Homo sapiens: one gene and its partner. The protein of the gene in region 2 interacts with the protein of the main gene of each other region in a biochemical or structural test. Each region holds a gene or a part of one and is shown on either strand. Other genes may lie near its edges.

Region 1 (7,029 bases), on a different chromosome or scaffold from region 2:
AGGAGAAACACTGGAACCTGGGAGGCGGAGGTTGCAGTGAGCTGAGATGGCACCGCTGCACTCCAGTCTGGGTGACAGAGTGAGACTCCATCTCAAAAAAGAAAAAAAAAAAAAAAACCCGGGTGCCTATAGTCCCAGCTACTTGGAACGCTGAGGCAGAAGAATCACTTGAGGAGTTTAAGGCTCTGGTATGCTATGATCATACCCCTTCATAGCTATTGACTGCATTCCAGTCTGGGCAACATAGAAAGACCTCATCTCTATTTGTAAAATAATTTAGAGTGAAATTCCCATAGTGTTGTTTGTGTACTGTGTTTTGTTCATTACCATATTTGCCTGTTGTTGAAGTATAAGAGAATTGTTAGGCTGGTTTATTTCATTCATTCTCTTTCAGTTATGAGACAAAGAATTAAACCTTTAAATTTTATGTTTATTAGATTATTTCTGAAACTTTTAACATATTTTTCAGGGTCAGTTAAATGAAAGCATGGACCATGGGGGAGTTGGACCATATGAACTGTAAGTTTATATGAAGAGATTTTCATTGTGTTGTCTTTCTTACAAGTAGGTTTTATCAGTTCTATTTCGTAGCAATCATGTGATTCCTGTAACCTGTTCTTAAATATGTAGTCATATTTATCAACTCGATGTATTGAATTTGGCACCAAAATCTGATCAATATAACCTATCAGAGTTTTGAGATTATGTATGGATTTTGAGGAAAAGATATTAATTCAGATTCAGAGTACTAAATATGAATCTGAGTTGTTAGTTTAAAGAGCCACAGTTTTAATCTTTTCTTACAGAAAAATTTGTAGAAATGCCTCAAAAAGTCAAATGCTTTCTGTTTTGCTTAAATATACAAACAGAAATTCATACAGTCATTCAAACAGAAATTCATGCAATCCGGCTGGGCACAGTGGCTCACACCTGTAATCCCAGCAGTTTGGGAGGCCAAGGTGGGCGGGTCATTTGAGATCAGGAGTTCGAGACCAGCCTGGCCGACATGGCGAAACCCCGTCTCTTCTTAAAATTCAAAAATTAGCCGGGCGACATAGCGAGACTCCGTCTCAACAGCAACAACAAAAAAGAAATTCATGTAATCTTAAGTCATTTTAGACAAGCTCCATTAGGTGAGTATGGTGATTAATCTGCTCTGTATTGTACTCTCAAGTAAAAAGCATTAGTGTAGGAGGAGAATGAGAAGATAGATCACTCATGTAGAAAGCATTTAAATGACAGAGACAATTGCTACCCCTTTTGGATTCTTTATTTTTATTTTTTTGGAGATGGAGTCTCCCTCTGTCACCCAGGCTGGAGTGCAGTGGCACAATCTCGGCTCACCACAACCTCCACCTCCTGGGTTCAAGCGATTGTCCTGCCTCAGCCTCCCAAGTAGCTGGGACTACAGGAGCGCACCACCACACCTGGCTAATTTTTGTTGGGTTTTTTTTTTTTTTTTTTTTTTTTGAGACAAAGTCTCGCTCTTGTTCCCAGGCTGGAGTGTGATGGCATGATCTCGGCCCACTGCAACCTCTGCCTCCCAGGTTCAAGTGATTCTCCTGCCTCAGCCTCCTGAGTAGCTGGGATTATAGGTTCCTGCCACCACGCCCAGCTAATTTTTGTATTTTTAATAGAGACGGGGTTTCACCATGTTGGCTAGGCTGGAATTTTTGTATTTTTAGTGGAGACAGGGTTTTACCATGTTGGCCAGGCTGGTCTTGAACTCTCGACCTCAAGTGATCCGCCCACCTCAGCCTCCCAAAGTGCTGGGATTACAGGCATGAGCCACCACGCCCATTGGATTCTTTAAATCAAGCTAATAACTTGAAAAAACAGATACAGAGAAGAAGTTTTGTACTATGATGTGAACTAATTGGGTAGTTTTGGAAAGATCCCTGATTTTCTGCTGACATTGCCAAATGAGGTTGGATAATACCTAATTTCATAGATATTTTCAATGAAGTAAATTTGAATAACTGCAAGACTTTTTTTCTTTGTCAACTTAATGAACTTTTTCTAACTTACCTTAGCTTTGGGGTGCTTGATGCTTATGAAAATAAATAATTGTCTTCTTTTACTTTGTTGCACTCCTAAGAGCAAGATGGGTCACCAGCAGCTGTATTGGAGTCACCCATGAAAATTCAATCAGGGTTCTTGCTCTTGTTGTGTCTGCTCAAACTGGCAAGGTCTGATCCAGAAATACGGCCTCAATATGTGCGCCAGTGTTTCTATCAGTAAACGAAGGATATAGATTTCATTAAGTTGGACTAAGTGATCTTACTTGAATGGATTATCCAAGGCATCTACCCAATGAAAAACCATAGTACCCCTTTATGCATAAAATAAACAATTATAAAAATAAGTAAATAATTGATTGCCCATTCTATGAACAAGGAGGCAAACGATTATCAGGCCACCCTCCTCTTGACCTGCTGTTCTGTTTGTTTAGAGCACAAATAATTTGGTGTCATGTACTTTTTTACTTTTACTTACTTAGATTACATTTCTCTGTCTCCTTTTTCTTGACTATATGCTGAAAGTAATTTAACTTTTTGCAAATTTATTTTTGGTTTTGCTTTTCTTCCCAGTGGCATGGAACATTGTGAGAAATTTGAAATCTCAGAAACTAGTGTGAACAGAGGGCCAGAAAAAATCAGACCAGAATGTTTTGAGCTACTTCGGGTACTTGGTAAAGGGGGCTATGGAAAGGTAGGCAATATTTTTGAAATGAGAGCTGTTGTCTGTCTTGAATAGATTGATTTTTATGCCCTGGTTCCAGCAGTCATCTTCAGTCTTTGTCAGCTATCAGCAAAGGATGTGATCATGACCACTTAGCTGGTATGTTTGAGGGATGTACAGAAGTTCAGTTTTCCCTTCTTTTCATACCACCACACATGTAAAAGCCTGGCACATAATAGGTACTCAGTCAAGGTTCATAGAATACATAAATAGACAACTGTACCAGGCAAAGTCTATTATTAAAGGGTTCATTCTTTACTTTGGTTAAATGGTATCCTCTTTAAAAATAAAGCCCTCCTTGCTTACAAGAGACATGGCAGTCTGAGTTGTTATCTGTTACTGAGACCTTAATCTCAACTGGTTTTCTGGAGCAATAGAATTGGGGAAGCTGAAGGAATATAAAAAGGGGGAAGAAAACTATTTAGTTTCACAGTTTTGCCCAAGGCTTTACAACTTAAGACGTCACTTTTATGAGTTCTGCCCACAAAACTTTTTACCAAACTATTCTCTTATCAAAATAATTTAGATAATAACTTGGTTAGTATTAAGTTTTAAGAATTATTTTTGCTATTGTGTAGTGTTAATTTTTGCAAAGCAGACATTTGTAGCCTATTCTTATGCTTAAGAACACATTGTAATTTCTAATCATCCTGAATGTGCAACACATGCACTTTGAATCTCACATGTTTTAGGTGTTGCATGAAAATGTTTATAGTTGTCTTTCAGTATGGGGGAGGGGTAAGGGAGAACTGATTCCAAGACCTTTGCAGATAACAAAATCTGCCGACGCTCAAGTGCCTTATATAAAATGGCATAGTATTTGCATATAAGCTACACACATCCTCCCATATGCTTAATTTTTTATTTTATTTTTTATGATTTTTGAGACAGAGTCTCGTTCTTTCCCGCAGGCTGGAGTGCAGTGGCACGATCTCAGCTCACTGCAACCTCTGCCTTCCAGATTCAAGCGATTCTCCTGCCTCAGTCTCCCGAGTAGCTGGGATTACAGGTGTGCGCCACCACATCCGGCTAATTTTTGTATTTTTAGTAGAGATGGGGTTTCACCATGTTGGCCAGGCTGGTCTTGAACTCCTGACCTCAGGTGATCCACCCGAGTTGGCCTCCCAAAGTGCCGGGTTTACAGTTGTGAGCCACCTCACCTGGCCATATTTGTGTTATTTTTTATTGTTTGTATTGTTTATTGTTTTTTCCCCCAAATATTTTCATTCTGCGGTTGGTTGAATCCACGGCTGCTGAACCTGTAGATTCAGAGGGCCAAGTATTAGTACAAACTATTTTAAGTAATAGGTAAACAGTAATTTCCTGCCAACTATTTTTAAATAGTTTTATGTGAAGCAAGGGCAGTGGCAAGCAACCTTGAAAGAAATTTATGAAATATTTTATAATTTTTACTGCCAACTATTTTTAAATAGTTTTATGTGAAGCAAGGGCAGTGGCAAGCAACCTTGAAAGAAATTTATGAAATATTTTATAATTTTTAAGGTGGTATTATGCCTCTGGGAACACTGTTTATAGCTTGTTCTAAGTAGGATTTTATATATTAATATAAAGTAACAGTGTTTATTATTAGATGGTCATTGTCCAACATTACCACCAGATGGCAGCAGAACAAACAGGAAAGTCATGATCATTAATGTGGTCTGTTCTTTTAGCTGATCATTTTTGCACATAGTTTTTATAATATAAACTGCTGTGGCATATGTTTCTTATAACTAGGAATTAAGGGAGTATGCCTGACATAGTTTGCCTTTGAATAACACACACTTTTTTTTAATCCAGGTTTTTCAAGTACGAAAAGTAACAGGAGCAAATACTGGGAAAATATTTGCCATGAAGGTGCTTAAAAAGGTGATTTCCACTCCCCCTTTTTAGTCCTCACACACCATATTTTTACACTTGATCTCAGCCAAAAGGCTGGGAAGCAATCATATCATATTTTTAATTGTTGTAACATTTTGGCCTAAAATTTGCAGTCAAAAAAATGTATCTCAAGCCAGGTACAGTGGTGCACACCTGTGGTCCCAGCTACTTGGGAGACTGAGTCAGGAGGATTGCTTGAACTTAGGAGTTCAAGGGTAGCCTGAGCAATGTAGTAAGACCCAGTCTCTTACAGAAAAAATGTATTTATTTTCTTTTCTTTTTTTTTTTTTTGAGACGTAGTCGCGCTCTGTCGCCCAGGCTGGAGTGCGGTGGTGCGATGTCGGCTCACTGCAACCTCCACCTCCCGGGTTCAGGTAATTCTCCTGCCTCAGCCTCCCGAGTAGCTGGGACTACAGGTGCATGCTGCCACGCCCAGCTACTTTTTTGTATTTTTGATAGAAACGGGGTTTCACCATATTGGCCAGGATGGTCTTGATCTCCTGACCTCAGTGATCCACCTGCCTCGGCATCCCAAAGTGCAGGGATTACAGGCATGAGCCACCGCACCCGGCAAAAAATGTATTTCTAACACAGTTGCAATACTTTTTAGAATGTGAGGTATGTTTCATTACTGTTATTCCTATTTTTATTTCTGCTTGGTGAGTGTGGAAAAGAGAGCTCTTGCAATTCTTTGCTGAGGTAACTCTTCACTGTTTCTGATCTCCTTATTTCTAAGTAATAAGCATGTACTGCCATCTCTTTTTTTTTGAGATGAACTCTCACTCTGTTGTCCAGGCTGGAGTGCAGTTGTACAATCTCAGCTCACTGCAACCTCTGTCTCCCAGGTTCAAGTGATTCTCCTGCCCTAGCCTCCCTAATAGCTGGGATTACAGGCGCCTACCACCACGCCTGGCTAATTTTTGGATTTTTAGTGTAGACGGGGTTTCACCATATTGGCCAGGCTGGTCTCGAACTCCTGACCTCAGGTGATCCATCTGCCTCGGCCTCCCAAACTGCTGGGATTACAGGCACGAGCCACTGCGCCTGGCCTACTGCTATCTTTTTTTTTTTTTTTTTTTTTTTTATTGTGACAGAGTTTTGCTCTTGTTGCCCAGGCTGGAGTGCAGTGGAGTGATCTCGGCTCACCACAACCTCCGCCTCCCAGGTTCAAGTGATTCTCCTGCCTCAGCCTCCCTAGTAGCTGGGATTACAGGCATGTGCCACCACGCCCGGCTAATTTTGTATTTTTAGTAGAGATGGGGTTTCTCCATGTTGGTTAGGCTGGTCTCGAACTCAGGTGATCTGCCCGCCTTGGCCTCCCAAAGTGCTGGGATTACAGGCATGAGCCACCATGCCCAGCCAACTGCTATCTTTTTAATTCAGCAGTTTTCAATTTTTTTTTTTAGACGGAGCCTCACTCTGTTGCCCAGGCTGGAGTGCAGTGGCGTGATCTCAGCTCACTGCAACCTCCACCTCCCAGGTTAAAGCGATTCCTCTGCTTCAGCTTCCTGAGTGTCTGGGATTACAGGCGCCCACCACCACACCCGGCTAATTTTTGTATTTTTAGTAGAGATGCGGTTTCGCCATATTGGCATGCTGGTGTCGAACTCCTGACCTCGGGGGATCGGCCCGCCTTGACCTCCCAAAGTGTTGGGATTACAGGCGTGAGCCACCGAGCCTGGCAGTATTAACTTTCTTTTATGCGAGTTAAGGATTTGTTTCTTGTTTACTTCACCCTCCTTTATCCTCATCCTCTCATTTTGTTTTGCTTTCTTTGAATCTACTATTGTCCTCTGATGTCTTCCAACAACTTTGTAAAACACCTTTCAGTCTAATGTTCTTTGATCAGGCTTATAAGATAATCTATCAGTTCCATTTATTTCCCAGAGGCATATCTTAGGAACTTTCTATCCACCTGTTCCCATCTGGAGTGGTAGCTCTTTAGTCACAACTGTTATGACTGGACTCTTTCTTCACCACAACCCTGGAATCCTCTTGGCTCCTTCAGTGTTGGATCTTTTGTTTCCTGGATCCCATATCTTCATTTTTTCCCTTTTTCTTAGTTTATGTCCTTGTTTTGGTGACACTATACTAGTGGCTCCCTCAGACAAGGTATATAAAGATACATTTATAATAAAAATATATCCATATTGCATATTTGAGAATTTCTTTACATTTTTATTTACTTGATTGTTTATGTTATTGGAGTTGAAAATTATTTTCACTTAGAATTTTGCTCAGTTTTCTTCTATTCTTGAGAGTTTCTGTTGAAGTGCTTTGGCATTCTGATTCCCAGTCGTTTACACATGGCCTATTTTTTCTGTGGAAATATTTAAGATTTTCTCTTTATTTCTGATCTAAGTTTTTATAGTGATGTGTGTTGCTTTGACTTTGATTATTATTTTT
Region 2 (6,355 bases):
TATCAACTATTTGAATAAAGTCCTATCTCTTCCTACCTTTAGTAAAGGAAATTAAGTTCAGATCTTTCACATCTTAGAGTAAACCTTATCTAGCCTATCAGTTTATCTAAATTTACTTTATCTATTTAACAGATTTACCTTACATGTTTTAACAAATGCTGTTATTTAGAATTAGCAAACATGGGAGAAACTAAAATTAATTAGGAACCACACAAGTTTTGATGAAAAGAAAACAAAACAAAGTACTAGCGGATCTCTTGTTCATAACTTGAGACATCTCCTGAGTAGTCTAGCTTAAGTAAATAGCAAACCATGGCAATCTTTCCCCCCAAAACTCAGCAAAAGGCCTTCACAAGGCATTTTGATCACATAAACTCCAATTTTGTCTAAGTAATCCAAGACATTCATAGGAAAACCTGAAGACTCCCCGAGCTAGTCTACTAGATTTATTTTTCCCAGAACACATGAAACTTAACATTTCCTTTTTTTCTTTTTTTTTTTTTGGAGACGGAGTCTCGCTGTCTTCCATGCTGGAGTGCAGTAGTACGATCCCGGCCCACTGCAGCCTCCGCCTCCCGGGTTCAGTTGATTCTCCTGCCTCAGCACCCCAAGTAGCTAGGATTACAGGCCCCCGCCAACCTGCCTGGCTAATTTTTCATTTTTTTGAGACGGAGTCTCACTGTCTTCCACGCTGGAGTGCAAAGGCACGATCTCGGCTCACTGCAACCTCCGCTTCCCGTCAAGCGATTCTCCTGCCTTAGCCTCCCGAGTATCTGGGACTACAGGTGCCTGCCACCACGCCCGGCTAATTTTTGTATTTTTTGTAGAGGTGGGGTTTCACCATGTTGGCCAGGCTGGTCTCGAACTCCTGACCTCGTGATCCGCCCGCCTCGGCCTCCCAAAGTGCTGGGATTACAGGCGTGAGCCACCGCGCCCGGCCAATATTTCCATTTTTGTGGTGAAGTTATACGCAACATGACCAAATCTTAGTTGGTGAGGGAGGTAAAAGACCCTTAAGGGCAAGAAGAGGTTAGAACTTTCAAATTTATGCCCCTCTGGTGGTGCAATGCAGAGATTTCCCTCATATTTCCGGGGAATTTCCCTCGAATTTCGTTTCCCACCCTGTGAAAGCAGCAAGGTTAGGAAAGCGGGGGCGGGGCGGGGGCGGGTAGTTTTGATTAAAAGGAAGGAAAAGAAAAACAGAGAAAAGCAAAAGGGGAAAATAAACTGAGCCTACTGAGGAGATGCGGCGACGGCGACAGTTTCCCGGGGCTGCTCAGCGCCTTGGGGCCTACAGGAGACGCGGGAGCACGCCCCCGGCGGCGCCGGCCTCGAGCGGTGTCACGGAGTTGTAGTGCTCGCCGAGGCTGTAGGCATAGCGCAGGTAGACCAGGATGATCGGCTTCTTGACGTACTCCTCCCCGATGATCAAGGTGGGCGAGTCGGCCTGGATCACCTCGATGGGGGTCTTCAGGACGTGCGACAGGGCCCTCAGCTCCAGCTGGCCTCCCCATGCCGTGGTGCGCACGATGTTGTCGCAGTAGATCATGAAGTCGTCGTAGCCGAAGGAGTCGCTGGTCTCGGGGTTGCTGAAGAAGGGCAGGAACTCGTCGACGTGCTTCTTCATGTAGCTGGCGGTGCGGCAGCGCAGCATCTCCACAGACACGCTGAACACCAGCTGGTCTTGGATGGCGCGGTACATGCAGTGGCCGTCGGCCGGGATCGCTTTCATCTCCAGACCCCTGGCTCCCAGGATGGCGGCGAGCTTCTCCTCCTCCTCGCGCTTGAAGCCGGCCAGGTGCTCCGACATCTCAGCCTGGAAGATGCTCTCCTGGCGCTCCCTCTCCTCGGACTCCATTCTTTCTCTCTTTCTGTGGGCTTTGGAGGAGCGGGGAGGCCGGTTTTCCAGATTCATCTTGGCCAGGTCTTCGACGACAGATTCAATGCTACTGTCGTCTTGGAACTTCTCCAGCTCCTGCCGGTGCTTCTGAGCCATCTCGGCCTCCATGCGGGCCACGTCTTGGAGCAACTGCTTTCTTTTCGTCTTGTCGGTCTTGGGGACCGAGTTTTTTAAGCTCCGGATCTGGGCCTGCAGCTCCTGCCTCTCGCGTTGGTGGCGGCGCAGTATGCGCTGCTGTTCACTCTTCGGATCATCCATGATGTTGAATGGCAAGCGGGAGTTGAAATTTGCTGGCAGTTCAAGTACCGAACAGACCAGAAGTCCTCAGCCTGTCCTAACGGTCGCTCTCTTTCACCTCACCGGCTCTAACCGCCGCTCTAGGCTCACCTCAGCCTCCGCTTCCCCTCCCCCATTCGCATTCTTCTCTGCCTTTGGTCACTGTGTCTCCATGGCCACGCCCCCGCAAGTGCTAGGCCACTTGCTGGGCCACCCGCAAATGCCCAGTGCTAGGATTGGCTGTTGGGAGACCGGAAGTATGAGCCCATTGGACCCCACAGCAAAGGTTTTTGGCGGGATTCAAATATGGCCTTCCTGCAATGTGTGTGGCAGTTGGGCCTGTAGAGTCTTTCGCTGATTGAGAGCCGACTTCATTTCCAAGTCTGCACACAATGCAGGCAGTAGCCATGCCTGACAGCCACATGACAGATACTACACCGCTGAATGTGCTCTAACCCTGGACTTGGCATTGCCCCTACTGTTGAGGAAGCAGTGCGTTTTTCTCCAGTCTTTCAGGTCCCTTCACCAGGGAACCATTAACTTGTGCATCAGAACAAGGACATTTCCTTACATTCCTGCAAACACAGTCCTTTCAGTTTACTCTTTTTTTGAGGGGGGGGCGCGGGGAACGGAGTCTCGCTCTGTCGCCCAGGCTGGAGTGCAATGGTGCAATCTCAGCTCACTGCAACCTCTGCCTCCCAGGTCCAAGCGATTCTCCTGCCTCAGCCTCCCGGGTAGCCGGGACTACAGGCGCCTGCCACCACGCCCGGCTAATTTTTGTATTTTTAGTAGAGACGAGGTTTCGCCGTGTTGGCCAGGCTGGTCTTGGAACTCCTGACCTCAGGTGATTTACTCGCCTCGGCCTCCCAAAGTGCTGGCATGAGCCACTGTGCCCAGTCACAAGTTTTTATTTTAGCCATTTTGATAAGTGTGAAGTTCCCTGATGGCTAATGATGTTCCTTTTTTCATGTGCTCATTTGTCATCTATGCCATATCCTTTTCAGTAAAATGTTTATGTCATTTGCCTATTTTCTCTCTCTTTTTTTTGGGGGGGGTGGAGTCTAGCTCTGTCACCGAGGGTGGAATGCAGTGGCGTGATCATGGCTCATTGCAGCCTCAAACTCCTGGGCTCAGGCTCAGGTGATCCTCCTGCCTCAACATCCTGAGTAGCTGGGACTACAGGCACCACCATACTTGGCTAATTTTGGGGAATTTTTTTTTTTTTTTTTTTTTTGCCAGATGCGGTGGCTCACGCCTGTAATCCCAGCACTTTGGGAGGCCAAGGTGGGAGGATGTCTTGAGGTCAGGAGTTCCAGACCAGCCTGGGCAACATGGTGAAGCCCTAACTCTACTAGAAATACAAAAATTAGCCAGGTGTGGTGGTGTGTGCCTGTAGTCCCAACTACTCCTGGGGGCTGAGGTGGGAGGATAGCTTGAGCCTGGGAAGCAGAAGTTGTAGTGAGCCAAGATAGCGGCACTGCACTCCAGTCTGGGCTCAAGTGGTCCTCCACCTCTGCCTTCCAAAGTGCTGGGATTACAGATGTGAGACACCATGCTCAGCCCTTCATTTGCCTATTTTCTTTCTCTCTCTCTCACTCTCTTTCTTCCTCTCTCTCTCTCTCTTACTCTCTTTCTTCTTCCTTCCTTGGTTTCCTTCCTTCCTTTTTTTTTCTTTTTTTTTTTGAGACGGAGTCTTGCTCTGTCACCCAGGCTGGAGTGCAGTGGCATGATCTCGGCTCACTGCAGCCTCCAGCTTCTGGGTTCAAGCAAGTCTCATGTCTCAGCCTCCTGAGTAGCTGGGACTACAGGCGCACACCACCACACCCGGATACTTTTTGTATTTTTAGTAGAGACAGGGTTTCACCATGTTGGCCAGGCTGGTCTTGAACTCCTGAGTTCAAGCGATCCCCCTGCCTTGGCCTCTCAAAGTGCCGGGATGACTACACACACCACCATATCCAGCTAACTTTTTTTTTTTTTTTTTTTTTTTTACTTTTTGTAGAAACGGGGCCTCACTATGTTGCTCAGGCTGGTTTCGAACTCCTGGGCTCAAGCGAGCCTCTCACCTCAGCCTCCCAAAATGCTGAGATTACAGGCGTGAGCCACCGCGCCTGGCCAGGATTTTTGTAGGAATCGTGTTCAAGCTGAATATCAATTTGGGGAGAATTGACATCTTTACTATGTTGAGTCTTCCAGTCCTTGAACACCTGGGTATGTATCTCCATTTACGTAGATCTTCATTGATTTCTTTCAGTGACACTGCATGATTTTCAGCATATAAATCCTGTGCATATTTTGTTAGATTTACACTTAAGCATTTCTCTTTTTTTGAGTGATTGTAAATGGTATTGTATTTTTATAATGTGAACATTTACAATGTTCACATGGTCATTGCTAGTATATAAAAATACAATTGACTTTTTTTGTTTATCTTGTGTTCTGTGACCTTGCTTAACTAGCTAATTATTTCTAGGAGGTTTTTTCCCCCCTTGATTCCTTGGAATTTTCTATGTAGGCAATCATGTCATCTGTGAATAGGGACAGTTTTATTTCATCCTTTCCAGTAAGTATGTCTTTTATTTCCTTTTCTTGCCTTATAGTGCTGATTAGAACTTCCAGCACTATGTTGGATAAGAGTGGCAAGGGCAGACATCCTTGTTTTGATCTTGATTTTAGGAGGAAAAGAATTTCATCTTTCACTGATAAGTATGATGTTAGCTGTAGGATTTTGTAAATGTTATTTATCTAGTTGAGGCCTTTCCCATCTATTCCTATTTTTCTGAGAGTTTTTGACATGAATGGGTATTAAATGTTGTCAATGTTTTTTCTGTATTGATATGCCAATATGATTTTTCTTCTATAACCTATTAATATGATAGACTATAGTGATTGATTTTTAAGTATTAAGCTAGTCTTGCATTTCAGAAATCAACCTGATTTGGTCATAGTTTATCATTATTTTTATATGTTGAGGAATTCTTTTGGTAATTTAAAAAAGGATTAAAAAAAATCTATGTTCATGAGAGGTATTGGTCTGCAGTTTTCTTTTTTGGTACTGTTTTGTTTAGTTTTAGTGTCAGGGTAAATACTAACTTCACAAGAAGAGGAGGGAAGTGTTCCTTCCTCTTCTATTTTTTTGGAAAGAGATTGTGTAAAATCAGTAATAATTCTTCTTTAAACATTTGATAGGATTCTCCAGTGAAACCATCAGGGCCAAGAGATCACTTTCTTGGGAGTTTTAAAATTAAAAAAAAGTTTTCCTTAATAGGACTAATCAAATTATATATTTCATATTGAGTGAATTTTGGTAGCTTGTGTTTTTTGAGGAATTGGTCCATTTATTCTGAGTAGTCAAATTTATGTGTGCAGAATTATTTGTAGTATTCCATTTTTATTGTTTGATGTTGGGAGGATTTATAGTGGTATTCCCTGCTTTATTGGTAATTTGTGTTTCCTCTTTTGTTCTTTGTCAGTCTTGCTAAAGATTTGTCAATTTTATTGATCTTTTCAAAGAACTAGCATGTTGTCTTATTGATTTTCCCCATTGATTTTCTGTTTTAGATTTCATTAGTTTATGCTATTTATTATATTCTTCCTTCTGCTTGCTTTGGGTTTAGTTTGCTCTTCTTTTGCTAGGTTCTTGAGGTGGGAGCTTGAATAATTGCTTTCAGACTTTTTCTCTTTTTCCAAAGTATACGCTTAGTGATATAAACTTCCTTCTCAGTACTACTTTAACTGGTTCTCCCATGTTTTGATATGTTTAGTTTTCATTATCCTTCAGTTCAATGTACTTTTTGGTTTTCCTTGAGACTTTTTGGCCCATGGATTATTTACAAGTGAGTTATTAGCTTCCAAGTGTTTGTAGGTTTTCCTGTTATCTATTAATGATTTCTACTTTGATTCTGATATGGTTTGGGTCTGTGTCCCTGCCCAAACCTCATGTTGAATTGTAATACCCTCTGTTGGAGGCGGGGCCTGTGGGAGGTGATTGGATCATGGGGGGCAGATTTCTCATGAGTGGTTTAGCACCATCCTCTTGGTACTGTCCTTGAGATTGTGAGTGAGTTCCTGTGAAATCTAGTTGTTCAAAAGTGTGTGGCACCTCCCCTCATCTCTTTCTTGCTCCTTCCTCCATGATTGGAAGTGTCCTGAGATCTCCCTAAAAAGCAGAAGCTGCTA

The links. The genes of interacting proteins can lie anywhere in the genome.
Region 1: of the proteins of OTUD6A (region 2) and RPS6KB1, one has a biochemical effect on the other in vitro, tested with the Homo sapiens proteins (one study listed by BioGRID).

The regions. Positions count from the first base shown.
Region 1 is NC_000017.11:59,910,093-59,917,121, forward strand, and holds part of RPS6KB1 (ribosomal protein S6 kinase beta-1), read left to right. Parts: intron 1-469; coding exon 470-519; intron 520-2,591; coding exon 2,592-2,712; intron 2,713-4,542; coding exon 4,543-4,611; intron 4,612-7,029. UniProt on the Homo sapiens protein: Serine/threonine-protein kinase that acts downstream of mTOR signaling in response to growth factors and nutrients to promote cell proliferation, cell growth and cell cycle progression.
Region 2 is NC_000023.11:70,058,328-70,064,682, reverse strand, and holds OTUD6A (OTU domain-containing protein 6A), read right to left. Parts: upstream 2,227-6,355; 5' UTR 2,159-2,226; coding exon 1,292-2,158; 3' UTR 504-1,291; downstream 1-503.